2 separate regions of the Homo sapiens genome follow, and region 1 is linked to region 2. A link means that fine-mapping ties the variant in region 2 to the expression of a gene that starts in the linked region. Tissue or cell type: tibial nerve. Region 2 holds a variant in brackets; the other region holds the start of a gene. All regions are shown on one strand. Distances are from middle to middle.

The links. PIP is the estimated chance that this variant, and not a neighbour inherited with it, causes the effect.
Region 1: FLNC starts here. The variant in region 2 is fine-mapped to the expression of FLNC in tibial nerve (GTEx, PIP above 0.99). The same link has a PIP of 0.9 or more in fibroblasts, ovary, subcutaneous fat, testis, thyroid and tibial artery.

What each region holds. Positions count from the first base shown.
Region 1 is chr7:128,826,146-128,834,248 of GRCh38, reverse strand. FLNC (filamin C) reads right to left here and starts at 3,843. Exons shown (of 48, transcript NM_001458.5): 1 at 3,260-3,843. The coding sequence starts at 3,611. RefSeq lists an enhancer at 134-777 and a silencer at 3,626-3,787.
Region 2 is chr7:128,772,761-128,780,863 of GRCh38, reverse strand. CALU (calumenin) reads right to left here. Exons shown (of 7, transcript NM_001219.5): 7 at 7,464-8,103. OPN1SW (opsin 1, short wave sensitive) reads left to right here and starts at 5,070. Exons shown (of 5, transcript NM_001385125.1): 1 at 5,070-5,425; 2 at 5,710-5,878; 3 at 6,201-6,366; 4 at 6,976-7,215. The coding sequence starts at 5,083. RefSeq lists cis regulatory regions at 4,604-5,073, 3,974-5,073, 1,274-5,073, 1-5,073, 4,082-5,076 and 1 more. The variant A/C (reference allele first, on the strand shown) is at 3,874.

The DNA of each region.
Region 1 (8,103 bases), 53 kb before region 2:
GATAGATCTTTGGAATTCAGCTTACTTGTAAAGGGCAATGAAGTTCTGAAATCTATCAGCTTCCCAAAGCACTGCTTTCAGGAGGCTGGAAGGGGGTGGAAGACAGTCTTGTTTACTGATGTTGCCCGAGAGATGGGAGAGGGTGGAGTGGAGCCTTCCCCTTACACATCTTCTCCCCTCCACCCTTCCCCAGGTCTTGGGGAAAGTGTTAGGAGACCGAGAGCCTGGGAAATCCAGGGCATCCCCTGCCCCACTCCCACCTGCCCCGGGAGGGGTGCCTCAGTCTCCCTGTCCCTCTGGCTGGGGCTCTGGCCGCCTGGGCTCCCCCACCCTGTCACTGATTCATCCTTCCTTCCCCAGCAGCTCCCCAGCCCACCCCCTTCCCCTGGCTCCACTGCAGCACAATGGTTTGGCAGCTTTCAGATTCCATGACACACTCACTCCCTGCCTCCCGGTGCTTTCTCTCAAACACACAGGCTCCAACACTTTCACACAGTCTGGATGCCCCAGTGCCCCCAGCCTCTCACAACCCCGACAGCCTCCAAAGCTCACACGCCCAGAAGTACTTCTTGCAAACTGGAGCCAGACCCCTGGGCAGGAAGCCTTGAGGCTGCAGGGGTTGGGGGGGGCGGTGTGTATATGGGGAGGGTGGTCATTCATATTTGCTGGAGAGGGAAGTTTCTCCCCAGCAACTGGCCCTGGGCCAGACAGCAAGTGGTCCAGGCTTGGGGCAGGAGAAGGGCAGTGGGGCCCCAAGTCCCACTCTGGAAGCAATGACCTCCCTCTCCCTCCTCCCTCTCGGAGGCCAGGCAGAGGAGAGGAGCTCAGCGCCACCAGGGCTCACCAAGCCACTTCTCCATCTGCCTAGGGATACCCCCAAAGGAGTGGGAGGAGCCAGACAGCTAGTTCCCGAGGCCACCCCAGGCCTCAAATGGAGGGGGAGGAGAGGGCTGGGCCTAGGGAGGTGCTGGGACAGCTGCTGCCCCCTCCCGCCCCTCCCTTGGTTGTTGGCTCCAGGAGAAGGAATAGCAACTGGGGAACAGCTGCGAGACAGAGCTGCCTCATAGGCCTCTTTGTTCGGAGGGAACGAGGGGCAACGGGGGGCCAGGACAAGGTGGTGAGGATATGAAGGGCACAGCTCCTTTAACCTGGGCTCAGTGCCCCTTCTTCAGGTGGGCTTGGATCCCAGCTGCTACTCCAGACCCTGACTTCCCTCCTGGAAAGAGAAGTGGGGAGTCTTTCTGACACCCCCTGAGGTGCCCAGATGCTCGATTTCGGTGCTGAGACAATACTCAGAAGGTGGCCCCATGGATAGCCCCTTTCCACCACTAAATGGAGTAGGGGAGCTAGCAGAAGCAGGATGCCCCTGCCTCGTGGGCAGCCCCTTTGAACCTCCTCATGGTGGGGCGCCCCAGCTGGTCGCTGCCGGTGTCCCCTCCCCTCCAGCCTCAGCCTGGGGCCGGCAGCTGAATTGCTGACAGCTTATCTCATCAGCGCCAGTGAGCCACTTGGCCCAAATGGGGACTGCCTCCCCTTCCTCCCAGCGGGAACCAGGGAGCTTCCCTCCCACCCTCAAACCAGCTTTTGCTTCTTCCCCTCTGCTCTGAGCCAGCCCCTCCTCTGCTGAGCCAAGGGGGCTGGAGCCAGGCACCGCCACGGGGGAGGGGAGAGGTGTGCTCAGGAAGGACGAGGCCTGGAGAGGGGCCGAGAGCCCCCGCAGACTGGAGGGGAGGGGAAGGCTGAGCGGTTTCCTATATGTCTTGCCGAAGCCTCCGGCTCTTCCCCCAGACCCCACCTGGTACAGTCAGTCCTGCCTTTCAAAACCCAGCCTGCTGAGGATGCCGGCCCAGGACTGACTCCTCTCTGACCCCTCAGCCTCCATCACGTAGCCCTCAGTCTCACTACACACTCCAGGCTCCCTCCCCCACCCCCTGCCCTCAGCCTTGTCCTTCTGGAAAGCTCAGAGACATCTGCTGTGTCACGGAGGCAGGGCTATTTCCAGGACAGGGCAGGCGGGTGGGGTGGGGGGGCAGTATTGGGGCAGGAGGGGGTAAGGGCTAGGGAGGGGACTGGACGGGGCAAAGGGCCCTGGGCTGACCTCAGCTGCTATATCAGGAGGCCTAGAGATGGCCCCAAGGGAGAGTGGGGCTGACAGACATCAAGTCATCTGGAGAAATCTCAGGGAACATCCTGTGTGGGGCCCACCTGGCCCCACATGAAACTCCCCTCCTGGGGCCGTGGGGTGCACCGTCCAAGGACCTCGTCCTGCAAATCCCAGCAGGGTTCTTAAGAGCTCTCCACAGGGGTGGGCGGGGGGATCTTCCCCAGGCCCCCAGCCTCAGGGATGACTGCAGGACTCTGAGGGCAGGACAGCCTCCTGCCACTCCAAGCCCACCCTTGGCGTCTCTGCTCCCAAGACTAGAGTGCCTCCCCGCCCCCACCCTGCACTACACACCTTCCAAATCTGGTTACACTCAAAGACTTCCTCCCTTCCACAGGCCTTTCCCTCCCTCCCCGCAGCCCAGACCGTTAGCTGCAGCCAATCCCGCGGTAGGGGGTGGGCTGGGGCAGGGCCTGGACTTGCGGAAGCCCCCTCCACCGCAGGCTGAAGCAGGAGGAGGACAGACAGGGGTTAAGTCTCCCCGCGCTCGCTCAGTGCCTTTTTAGGTTTCTGAGGCTGGGCCCTGCCTGTCCTGGCCCCCGGGCCTGAACCCAGCTGCTGAGCACATGCACGAAGAGGGCCTCCCGCGCCAGCTCCCCTCGGCCCCAGAGCCCGCAGACGCGGGCAGTGGTTGGGGACCTGTCTTCAGCCCTCTCCCAGCCCGCGGAGGGGCTGTGAAGCTGGGAAGCCACTTGTTTTGTTGGGGGCGGGGAGATGCCCCCAGGAATCAGTGACAGGCACTGGTTCTGTCCTCCCGAGTGTGGGCTAGGGTTGCCCGATGGAAGGAAAGGGAACGGTGAGCCGAGGCGGGAGGTGGGAATGTGCATGGGGAGGCGGCAGCTGGAGGGCTCGCAAACCCTAAGGCCTGGACTCCCCGGGGCACCCAGGGAGTGCTCGCTGTCCCCAGAGGGGTGTGCAGGCAGTGCCCATGGCCCTTGTCGATGGGTGGGAGGGCCGGGGCCAGGGTCTTCTCTCTATACCGGGGGGTGCCCTCCGCCCTGTCTCTCAGCTCCCCGCGCGCCCACCCCGCACCTGTGCCCCTGCCCCATGGGACGACCCTATCCCCGCAGCGCCCGTGCCCTCGCCCCCGGCACTGACCTATGGACACGAGCTTGATGTGCTCGCGCTCGAGGAACTCGAGGGCCACGGACACGTTCTCCAGCTTCATTTGGCGGAAGTTGGGGCGCGGATGGAACTTGCGGTACATGCGCTTCTGGCTGAGCACCTCGAGCAGCGCGATGAGCCGGAGCCCGTCGCTGAGGTCGCGCTGCAGGTCGGTCAGGCGCTTGCCCACGCACTTGAGGTGCTCATTGCACCAGCGCGTGAATGTGTTCTGCTGGATCTTCTTCCACGGCGCGTCCTCCGCCAGGTCCTTCTCCGTGGACGGCATCTCGTCTGTCTCATCGCCCAGGCCGAGGCCGGCGTCTGAGTAGCCGCTGTTGTTCATCATGCTGGCGCGGGCTGGGGGTGCGGCCGGGGCTAGGGCCGCGGTTTGGGCTATCGGGGGCTGTCGGGCGCTGTTGGGGCGCGACCACGGGACTCGCTGCGCTGCGCTGCTCTCCTCTCCAACTTCTCTCGCGCCGGGGCTGGCGGGGCTCGGCGAGGCTCGGCGGGCCTCCTAGGCGCTCGGCCGCTCTCTGGCTCTCTCTCCCTCCAGGGCCGGAGCGGTGCTCGGGAAGGGCGGGCTGGGCCGGGGCGGGGGGTTTAAGAAGCCCCCGGACCGCCGCCCCCCCGCCGCGCCCGCGGCCCCCGGGTCCACGTCAGAGCGCCGGCCTCCCAGGAATGCCGCCCGGCCCGCGGGTGGGGGCCGCGCCGCACAGGACGCCCCGCCCCCGCCGCCCCTCCCCCGCGCCGCCCGGGCGGCGGGACGGGGTTGAGGGCGCCCACCCCCTGGGCCCCCGGTGCCGCCGCGCTGGAAGGTGGCGGGGAGGGCCGACAGTTCTCCATCCACACCCAACACACCAAACTGTCAGGAATGAAATATGCTCCCTCCACACCCCGCACGGGCTGAAGAGGTAAATGGGGAAACTGAGGCCAGTGATTAGGGCAAAACCCACTGATCTGGTGTTCACAGAATTTTCTAGACTAGTTGGTGGCAGGCTGTTGACAGGGCCTGCGAGGGCTGGCTCCTAGCCCAGGGCATTGTCCACCTGTGGACAGGGAAGGGAAGTGTGTGTGCTTGTGCAGAGACGGCCTGAGAGGAAGCAGGGACCTTGCCCGGGCCAATGAAGGAGAAGCCTGCGGGGGGGCGGGGGGTTGTGTGTGCCTCCCAGCCATTGCTTGACTTTACAGATAGAAAAGCCTCATGTAGGGCCCAAATCCAGAGGCCCAGGAGTAAGACCGGGGCCCCTGCCCCTGACTCAGTGTCCCTGTCACCAGCCCGTTTGGCCTCATCGCCTCGGTATGAAGCTGAGCTCAGGAAAAGGGTACCCAGTGACTCACACTGTGTATCCCCCTCCCCCAAGTCTGACTCAACTGAGATGATAAGAGGGGAAGGAGAGACTCTTCCCCCATAGTGCCAGGGAGCCCCCTGGGCAACATGCCCATTTGGGCCACAGGGCAGATCCTGCCAGGGAAAGGGTGGGTCAGCCAGGCAGAAACAGGGAGAGCCCCAGCCAGAGCAGCCAGGGGGAAATGTGACCAGGTGGGTAGGCAGGACCAGGGGCAGAGTGGTCAGGGAGAGCCTAAGGGAGCCAGCTGGGATGCCCAGGCAAAGCTGCACTCAGGGCAAGCCAAAGGCTGCAGGCCTGGGGAATAGAACAGCAGGGAAACCGAGGCACCCAAACAGACTCTGGCCTGGGGTGAGGAGAAAGAGCTAGAGAACGTATTTCTTTTTCTTTTTTCTTTTTTTTTTTTTTTTTTTTTTGAGATGGAGTTTTGCTCTTGTTACCCAGGCTGGAGTGCAATGGCATGATCTCTGCTCACCGCAACCTCTGTCTCCCAGGTTCAAGCAATTCTCCTGCCTTAGCCTCCCAAATAGCTGGGATTACAGGCATGCACCACCACGCCCAGCTAATTTTGTATTTTTAGTAGAAACGGGGTTTCTCCATGTTGGTCAGGCTGGTCTCGAACTCCCGACCTCAGGTGATCTGCACGCCTCAGCCTCCCAAAGTGCTGGGATTACAGGCGTGAGCCACCGTGCTGGGCCTAGAGAATGTATTTCTATAAGGAGAGGATCCATTCTGCAACTTTGTAACATACGTGCAGCCATATCTCCCAGTTCCCCCTTTTTCAAGCCATGTGTCTTCAGCTTTCCCATCCTTCTAGACCTAGTAAGTCTAGCTGAGCTGGCTAGGAGGCCATATCTGAGCCTGAGAAGTTTCTTTAAGCCAGGGAAGGTTCTGGGCCCTTTTAGATGAATCATTATATCTAATTCCTCTTCTACCCCTAGACCTGGTGTAAAAGAAGGGATAGTGAGCATCTTTGGGGGCTCTTTCCCCCAAGGGCCAATGAGGGCACCCCCTGTTACGGAGCTGAGGAAAAAGTGTCAGGGTTCTGTGGGGGCAATGCTTATGATGACAGGGGTCTATGAATGAAATTGCCTGGTCCTTAGGTAGGGAGGGGGAGGAGTAGAGAAGGGACCAGAAAGAGCAAAAGGACCTGCTGTGTGTGGCTGGAGGTGGGGGGAGCTGTGGGGACCCTGATAGTGACAGGCGAGGTATAAATAGCCTGGGCCCTGCGGCTCATGTTCTGTCGGCTGCCTGTGACGAGGTGCTCAGGAATTCCACTCTCCTATTGGCAACCCCTTCTCCCTATCTCTAGAACTCTCATTCTCCCCAAGCCACCTTCAACTCATGGCTAAATCCACCCATCAGGCACCCGTGCTGTCCATACACTTGAGAGGCTGAGCTCTGCTGTGGAGAGAGGCCCCGCTCCTAGGACACGCAGCTGGGCCTCACAAGGGAACTGTGTATGTACAAAGGCCGACTTCTGACAGCCAACCTGATGTGCCAAGGGCTCAGGGTTCAGCAGTGCTGCCTCTGAATCCCTGGTGAGTAAACTGAGACACAGATCTGAGAAAGGATGCATTCCTCTTTGAGCTGCTGGGGAGGAGAAAGGGTTAAGGTGAGGTAGCTCGGAGCTGACAGCCCCTTTACAGACCCTAATGGTCCACAGTCCTGTTTTGCAGGCATTATCTGAGGTCCCCCAGCCAGCTGAGCGCCTCTGTTCAGGTGGAGAGGCCGGAGGAAGCCAGGGAGGGGAGAAGGAACTCCCAGCGTAGCTTCCCTTGCTTTCCCTCTGACTCAAGAGCTCGCTCCAGGGGAGGTCAGTGTGCGGGTCCCAGGGGATCAAGTGAATGGTTGGCAGAGGAGAGGAGGGTACAGAGTGCCAAAGGATGATTCCCGTCACCCCCCGCAACCGTCCTCAGAAACCTGAGCCTGTTGCTCTCCAGGATAAATCGGGGCCTGACTCAGGCCCCAGCAGCCAGTGACACTCAGCCTGACCCAGGCGCGGGCTGGTGACTCAGCCCTCAATATAGCCCATGAGCCCAGGCCCTGGGCCTGGCCAGCCAGGCTGGAACAGACCGTGCACAATGCTGGGCCCGGCCTGCCAAGTAGGGCCCCCTCCCCGAGGAGCGCTGACATGCTCCTCCCCAAGCCAGGCAGGGGCACACAGGGGGTTACAAGGGGTTTCATCAGCTGAGTATCTGGGCAGTGCTGGCTGGGGCCACAGGCTGTTTATAGCCCCCTGACTCACCACCTGCTGACCTATCTCAGGAGACCAGGTTGCCTGGCTCTTCACCTGGTCCTGCCTCTGCCGTCAAGGGGCTCTGCTCATCAGCCACCAATACTGGCCATATTTATCTTGGGCTGAGCTGAATCCAAGTGAGCGGATACAATGAGCCATGTTTGAAAATCCTGTTTTTCTGGAACCAGGGACATTTCCACAGTCACCTGTGATGATACTGGGCTGGCCAGGTCATAACAGGCACTTTCAGTGATACTGATACTGACTGTGGCTCTGACCCAGGTTCCAGGGACAGTGTGGTAGAGTGGAATGATCCATGGGCTGAATTCCAGCCTCTCTACTTCTAGCTCTGCAACCTTGGGCAAGTAATGTAGCTCTTTTGGGCCTGTTTTCTCGTCTTTTTTTTTTTTTAATGTGTGAAAATGGAAGGAAATCACAAGAAAGATGATTAGCATGGTGCCTGGCATCTAATAGGTGATCCAAAACAATTAGTTTGCTTCCTCTGATTATCTTGGAGACTAAGGGGTTCTGGTGAGAGAGGCCTTCCCCTGCAGCTCTGTGTCCACACCTCCGTGGGGACCACTGCCTGGATCTCCAGGCTGTTCCCCTCTCCCCTTCCCTGCAACCCAACATTCCCTCTGCCACAATCAGAACCGGCAGTACCTGTCATCTTTAGAACCACCCACCCTGCCCCAAAAGCAGCTGGTCCTTGACAGGAGTGGCAGCGGGTGGCTGCTCTACCTCTTGGCCTGGGAAGGGAAACCAGACAGGGCTAGGCTGCAGGGAGCTCACAGAAAGGAGGCAGTTATGCAGAGGGCAGCAGCGGGGAGAGATGGAGGCTCCTGAAGGTGCTTTGAGTCCCTGGTTCTAGCACACCTAGGCCCAAGTGCACGCCTGCCTGTGGCTTCCAAGGCATACCCCTCCAGACTTAAGATCAATCCCTCCTGTCTTTTTTTTTTTTGGTATAAATTTAGAGGGTGCAAGTGCAGTTTTGATACATGGATATATTGCTTAGTGTGAAGTCTGGGCTTCTAGTGTAACATCACCCAAATAATGTACATTGTACCCATTAAGTAATTTCTCATCCCTCCCCTCGCCCCATGCCCCGACCGCCCCCCTACCCCTCGCCGCTCCAAAGTCTCCAATGTCCATCAGTTCACATTCTATGTCCCTGTGTGCACATTATACACATTCTTTAACTCCACATTTTTTTTTTAAAGACGGAGTCTTGCTCTGTCACCCAGGCTGGAGTG
Region 2 (8,103 bases):
CTTGTCTGGAGAGCCTTATGGGTTAGTATTTAACAGACAACATTGTCACACACATCATCTCAAGCTCACTGTCACCTCCTATATATATAAAAAACAGCAAGAAGCTACCACTGGTTGCCTCTGAGAAGGTAACTGAGTAGTTGGGAGGCTGGGTGGAAAGGAAACTTCTTTTTCTCTGAATATTCTTCTTCCTTTTTTTTTTTTTTTTTTTTTTTGAGATAGAGTCTCACTCTGTCCGCCAGGCTGGAGTGCAGTGGTGAGATCTCGGCTCACTGCAACCTCCGTCTCCTGGGCTCAAGCAATTCTCCTGCCTCAGCCTTTCAGTAGCTTGGATTACAGGCATGTGTCACCATGCCCAGCTAATTTTTGTATTTTTAGTAGAGACGGGGTTTCACTATGTTGGCCAGGCTGGTCTTGAACTCCTGACCTCAGGTAATCCACCTGCCTCGGCCTCCCAAAGTGCTGGGATTACAGGCGTGAGCCACTGCGCCTGGCCATATATATATGCGGCCACACACATATATATATGGAAAAACAAATTTTCACTTGATTGTATTATATTGGGTTCTGAGCATTTGTAAGTCTAAATCTAAATCAATGGTTGGATCTCAGCTGGAGGGGAGGGGAGTGGGGAAGGGTTTTGTCTCTCAGGAGGCATTTGACAATGTCGGGAGACATTTTTGGTTATCATGACTGGGCTGGTAGTGTTGATTTTGGCATCTAGAGGAGAGGGACACTGTTCAACATCCTACAATGCACAGGACAGCCCCCAGACAAAGAATTATCTGCAATGTCAATAGTGCCAACGTTGAGAAATCCTGGTCTAAGTGTATTTCATGTGATCTTCTGTAAAGCCTTAGTGTATTAACATGTTCTAAATTAATAAGGTGATTTTCAGCCTGGGAAGAGCACTGTATAACTAAATGCACTTAAGATGCCTCTAGTTTTTATTTTTTATTTTATTTTGTTTTTTGGTTTTGAGACACAGTCCCGCTCTGTTGCCCAGGCTGGAGGGCAGCAGCACAATCTCAGCTCACCGCAACCTCTGCCTCCTGGGTTCAAGCGATTCTCCTACCTCAGCCTCCCAAATAGCTGGGACTATACAGGAGTGCGCCACCATGCCCAGCAAATTTTTGTATTTTTTGGTAGAGACAGGGTTTCACCATGTTGGCCAGGTTGGTGAACACCTGACCTCAAGTGATCTGCCCACCTTGGCCTCCAAAAGTGGTGGGATTACAGGTGTGAGCCACCGTGCCCAGTCTGCCTCCAGTTTTTCTATTTTCTCTTCCTCCTTTACCCCATGCCCCTTCCTCAGAAGCTTGCCTCCTCCTACTCCGTGGCCTCCATGACTTTGGAGAATTTTTGTCCATGGCTTGAGCACCGGTAAGACTTTGCGCTTGGGTGAGGCTCTTTTTGGTCTGAGCCCCTCAGGGATTGGGTTGCCTCCAGCTTGGGCCCATTGTCTCCCTCTGCTGTTGGGGGAACAGGGTGGGAGGGCACTGTCTGGGAAGGCGTGAGGACAGTATTAGGAGGGGCCAAAGATGTGGCCACCTAGCCTTGTACACTGGATGTAAAAGGGCCCGGGGTGTCTTGCACCCTCGCCATTTAGCCTCCCATCAGAAATGTTTGCAGAGGTGGGCACCTCAGCAGAGCCCAGCGGACAGTGGAGGCTGGCTTGTTCCACGCAGGCCAGGCTCACACACAGTCCATGTGCCCTGCTCAGGGATAGGCACCTTAAGGTGACCTCTGGCCCTGGTCCTGAAGTCCTGCCCAGGGCAACGGATGAGCAGCTCTGCTCATCTGTACAAGGCTAGGTGGCCACATCTTTGGCCCCTCCTAATACTGTCCTCACACCTTCCCAGACAGTGCCCTCCCACCCTGTTCCCCCCATGACTCAGGCAATCTGACTGGACCCTTAGCTGGCTCTCCCCAGTAACCTCCACCAGGACTCCCACCTGCGGCCGAGTGTTTGTGTGGGATGTGCATGTGTGCGCATGCACATGAGAGTGGCGGTCTTTCGGAAATAATTAAGTCAGCTGGGCACAGTGGCTCATGCCTGTAATCCCAGCACTTCGGGAGGCCGAGGTGGTCAGATCACCTGAGGTCAGGAGTTTGAGAACAGCCTGGCCAAAATGGTGAAACCCTGTCTCTACTAAAAATGCAAAAATTAGCTGGGCATGGTGGCACAGACCTGTAATCCCAGCTACATGGGAGACTGAGGCAAGAGAATCACTTGAACCCAGGAGATGGAGGTTGCAGTGACCTGAGATTGGCTCAGATCCTACTGAGGAGATGCTGGAGACAGGAGAGAACTATTTTGTTTTGCTTCAGGTTTCATTGATTTTTCTCCATTCTTTATTCATTTTTAATTTCAATGTTTTCTGCTCTGCTTTTTAGTATCTGCCCCTATTTATTTTAGATTTGATTCACCCTTTCAGCTTCTCAAGGTGAAAGTTTAAATTTTAAACATTTATTGTCTAGTATAAATACTTAAAGCTATAAATTTTTCTCTAAGTACTGCTTTAGCTGACTCCTTCAATTTCTAATACTTTTTTGTTGTTATTCAGCTGAAATTCTTTCAGTTTTTCCTTATGATTTCTCTTTTGACTCACAGGATATTTAGATGTATATTGCTTATTCATAAGTGTTTGGGGGATTTTCCAGATATCTTTTTGTTATTGATCTATCTGTAAGTTCACTGATCCTTTCTTCTGCTGTCCAATCTGCTGTTCAGCCATCTAGTAAATTCTTCATTTGACATGTTGTAGTTTTCAGTTCTGGAATTTCCATTTGGCTATTTTATTTTTCCCATTCTTCTGCTGAGATCCATTAACTCACGATGATCATTTTTTTCCTTCCAGTTCTTGAATATATTTATATCGCTGTTTGAAGTTTTTCCTGCTGGTGCCAACTTCTTGGGTCATCTCAGGTTCTGTTTCTATTGCTTGCTTTTTCTTTTGGCTATGACTCATATTTTCCTGTGGGTTTTTTTTTTCTTTCACACGCCTTTTAATTTTTCATTGTATATTAGACATTGTAGATAGTGAACTTTAGAAACTGGGTTATCTTCCATTGAGGGGTGTTGATTTTTGTTCTAATAAGCAATTAACTTACTAGTTGATCACCTTGAACCCGCTGAGGCTTGGTTTTATCTTTTGCTAGTATGAGTCAGCTTTGGCTTTGACCTTACTCTCAGAACAAATATTTAGTCCTGGGATATAGATTTTAGCTCTATGGTGTGGCCTTTTGGGAGTTTCAAGTAGAAAGCCCTAAGTGTTTACCCAGACCCTCTGACTTGGGATTCAAATTCAAACTCTTTCTCTGCTACAGTGGGTAACAGTCAAAATCTGCTTAGCTCTTTCAGACCTCCAGTGGTTGTCTTTTACTGGGCTCTTGGAAATTCCTCCATCCACAGTTCAGCAGTCAGCCTATGATTTGAGGGGAGTTTATATGCAGATTTAAAGACTTTGCCTTCTGTGGCTTCTTTCATTCCAGGAAATCCACCTTCAGCTGTTCTGGAGTCCCAAACTGTCCTCTGTCTCCTGTCCTCTGTCCTCTGACTCTTCAAGCCAAAAAAGGCTGGGGCTTTCTGCTCAAGTTCTAGCTATCCTGTGCCATTTATACTCGGGAGTACACTCAGGGAAAAAAAAAAACAACAATGTAGATGGTTCTTTTCATTGAAGAGTTGAGTTCCTTTCAGTTTCTGCCTGCTTTGGATACTTTAGGTGTTTTCAAAAAGTTGTTTTTCATATTGTGTCCAGTTTACAATTTTTTTGCCTAAGGGGGCATTCATCTAATAAACTATTCTGCCATTACTGGACCATCCTTTCACTTTTAAACTTACTTATACCTAAAGTGTGTCACTTTTAACTC[A/C]TCTATATATATAGTCTCGCTCTGTCCCACAGGCTGGAGTGCAGTGGCGTGATCTCGGCTCACTGCAGGCTCCGCCTCCCGGGTTCACGCCATTCTCCTGCCTCAGCCTCCCAAGTAGCTGGGACTACAGGCGCCCACCACCACACCCAGCTAATTTTTTGTATTTTTAGTAGAGACGGGGTTTCACCGTTAGCCAGGATGGTCTCGATCTCCTGACCTTGTGATCCACCCATCTCAGCCTCCCAAAGTGCTGGGATTACAGGCTTGAGCCACCACGCCCGGCCAACTCATCTATATATTTATGATCTGCTGAGGTGGAAAAGATTCATTCATAAAGCCTAAAGTGTAGTACTGAGTACAAGTGCAGGTGGAACTTAAAGCAGAGTTGGTGTCACTGGGGTGGGCTGCACAGAAGAGGTGTTTGTGAGGTAGGCTGTGAGGGCTAGATAAGACTTCAATGAACAGACAGGAGGAAGACTGTGGCGACTTGTTGAGCTAAGGGTAGGGGTAGGCATGAACATGGCGTAAGGACAGTGAACAGACCCACCTCCCTGGCTGGAGGTCTGAGTAGGAAAGGCACACTCTTTGAGTAGATTCAACACAAAGAAATGGAGGCAGCCTGGCTCAGGGATGCCCTAGACCTCTAGGCATTGTCAAGTTGCCTAAGTCCTGTTCCATCAAGGCTGTTTACTGATGTGCTTCCAGGGCACTCCCCACTCCCAGCCCTTTCCTGCAGCCCAGGGCTGGTTCCTAGCCTCTCAGCAGACTTAAGATGGGCACCTTCCACAAAGGGGCAGATGAGTTGAGGAAAACTTAACTGATACAGTTGTGCCAGAAGCCAAAATAAGAGGCGTGCCCTTTCTATAGCCCCATTAAAAGAACAAAAAAGTGGAAGCATCTTCAGTGAATATGGGTCAGCACCTCCCAGACCTCAGGGAGTCCACTTCTGTTCATCCCAGCACCCAGCATTGCATATCCAGATTATTTGAGCCCAATCTCTTATCCTCTGAAGAACACAATCGGCTTTGGGGCCACAAAAGGTTTAGGTAGTGGTTTAGGGATTTCTAATCCCAAACTTTGTCCTTGGGAGGTTTAGGATTAGTATTGATCATTCACAGAGCCCAAGTGTTTTTAGAGGAGGGGTTTTGTGGGGTGGGAGGATCACCTATAAGAGGACTCAGAGGGGGGTGTGGGGCATCCATGAGAAAAATGTCGGAGGAAGAGTTTTATCTGTTCAAAAATATCTCTTCAGTGGGGCCGTGGGATGGGCCTCAGTACCACATTGCCCCTGTCTGGGCCTTCTACCTCCAGGCAGCTTTCATGGGCACTGTCTTCCTTATAGGGTTCCCACTCAATGCCATGGTGCTGGTGGCCACACTGCGCTACAAAAAGTTGCGGCAGCCCCTCAACTACATTCTGGTCAACGTGTCCTTCGGAGGCTTCCTCCTCTGCATCTTCTCTGTCTTCCCTGTCTTCGTCGCCAGCTGTAACGGATACTTCGTCTTCGGTCGCCATGTTTGTGCTTTGGAGGGCTTCCTGGGCACTGTAGCAGGTACTGCAGGGGAAAAAGGGGTTAGGGGAAGGCAAAGGTTGCTACTCCACTGGAGGGGGTTCCTAAAGAGGAGTCTGGGGGAAATGAGTCTGGTGCTTTTTAAAATACTGGGGTACAAAGCAACCCAGACTAGAAGTTTGGCTAAAATAGGATGTTTGAGTCTTCACTCCAAATGTCAGTCCAGCCCTGTCTCTCTGTGCTTGCTCCACCCGATCTGTTTGCCACTCTGCCAGCCAGGCTGGGTGGGGCTCTGTCTAGCCCATTATCCTCACATTTCACCACAGGTCTGGTTACAGGATGGTCACTGGCCTTCCTGGCCTTTGAGCGCTACATTGTCATCTGTAAGCCCTTCGGCAACTTCCGCTTCAGCTCCAAGCATGCACTGACGGTGGTCCTGGCTACCTGGACCATTGGTATTGGCGTCTCCATCCCACCCTTCTTTGGCTGGAGCCGGTGAGAGTGCAGGGCAGTGGTGCTGAGTTAACTAGGAGCTCAGGTTGATGTGGGTGGAAAGAGAGCTTGGGTATAACTATTTAGTCTTTGACCTCTACTTTTAAAGAGTTGCAATATGAGGCGAAAGGGCAGTGGGAGACAAGTGCTAACGTTTACTCTGCAGTTGGAATTGCTGTAGCTTCTCCCAGTCAGGACAGAAAACCCCCCTGCTTGAAGCCTTAGGGCATTCCGTGGGTTCTAAGTGGAGAACACAATCCAGGCATCTCAGCTCCCACTGCACTCTTGTGGAGAGTCCAGTGAGCAAGTGTTTGGTCCTTTGCAGGTTCATCCCTGAGGGCCTGCAGTGTTCCTGTGGCCCTGACTGGTACACCGTGGGCACCAAATACCGCAGCGAGTCCTATACGTGGTTCCTCTTCATCTTCTGCTTCATTGTGCCTCTCTCCCTCATCTGCTTCTCCTACACTCAGCTGCTGAGGGCCCTGAAAGCTGTGAGTGGCATTTGATAGTCAGGGAAGAAGGGGTTCGGGGCTCCACATGAGAAGGAAGAGTGCTCTGAAACATAAGATGCCTGGAAATGTCCATAGCCAGAGAGGGTATCTAAAAGCAGCAAAGGAAGTAGGAGGAGGGAGAATGATGGAGATCCAAAGGAACTAGGCCAGGAGATGGGACAGAAAAGAGGCAATCAGAGTGGATGCCCCCTCCCCCATCCCACAGAAAAGCATCCAGAGACCGGGCGCAGTGGCTCACGCCTATAATCCCAGCACTTTGGGAGGCCGAAGCAGACGGATCACCTGAGGTCAATAGTTCCAGACCAGCCTGGCCTACATGGCAAAATGCTAAAATGCGAAAATTAGCTGGGCATGGTGGTGTGTGCTTGTAACCCCAGCTACTCAGGAGGCTGAGACAAAAGAATCACTTGAACCCGGGAGGTGGAGGTTCAGTGAGCCGAGACTGCACCACTGCAACTCCAGCCTGGGCAACAGAGCGAGACTCGGTCTCAAAAAGAAAATTAAAAATTAAAAATTAAAAAAAAAAAAAAAAAGCATCCAGAGGGCCAGGAAAAAGAGAGATGTGATGCTTTCCGTGCTCCACCCCAGGTTGCAGCTCAGCAGCAGGAGTCAGCTACGACCCAGAAGGCTGAACGGGAGGTGAGCCGCATGGTGGTTGTGATGGTAGGATCCTTCTGTGTCTGCTACGTGCCCTACGCGGCCTTCGCCATGTACATGGTCAACAACCGTAACCATGGGCTGGACTTACGGCTTGTCACCATTCCTTCATTCTTCTCCAAGAGTGCTTGCATCTACAATCCCATCATCTACTGCTTCATGAATAAGCAGGTAAAGCTCTTTATTCACATTCCTATGGTCCAGAAGACCCTGGTTCTTTTCTCACCATTGACTTTTAACTCAGAGCACCCTGGACTCTACCCAGGTTTCTAGTAGACGAGGGAAGCCACAAAACCCCCGAGTAGGTTGGGAAGCCTTTGGTAAGCACAGGGAGGAAGGCACGGTTATCAAGACGAGAAAATAGAACCCCGGAGGAAAGAACTTGAGTCAGGAAAATGAAGTTGCTCCAAAGAACAGGATGAATGAAAGCATTTTATTGAAAAACTCGTGCAGCAAACCACCATGGCACACGTTTACCTATGTAACAAACCTGCACATCCTGCACATGTATCCTGGAACTTAAATAAAATTAAAAAAATAAAAATAAAAACTCAGATTCCTCTCAATTTTCAGTCCTTGCATTTAATAATTTCTTAATCATTTCCCTTCCAACTTTTAGCCTGCACGAGCATGTGTGAAGCACAGAAATCATACCACATGCAAAAATCTCTAAAATATCTTATCATCTGAAGGTACTGGGGGATTTCCTATCCCATCTGAAATCCGAGCTAATAAACACCAAACCCTAAGTGGCAAAAACCCTACTTTCAGATGGTATTGTTTCCTCAATCCCAGAGGTAGACTCAAAACTAATTTGAAACCTCCCTGGATAGAAGAGAATTGGCAGTCCTTTCCAGCTGGGAGCACCTGCTAGTAATGGAGGGGCCTCTGCTGACAGTGCTTTTATGAAGCAGGATGGTTTGTGAATTTACCAACAGTGAGGTCTCAGACTTGACCAGTTTAGGATTACCGTAGACCCAGGAGTAGTTCTAGACTGGAATCTAGATAGTTTTCAGGATGGGGAAGATAGATTCAAAACCACCTAAGGGCATTCTGGGT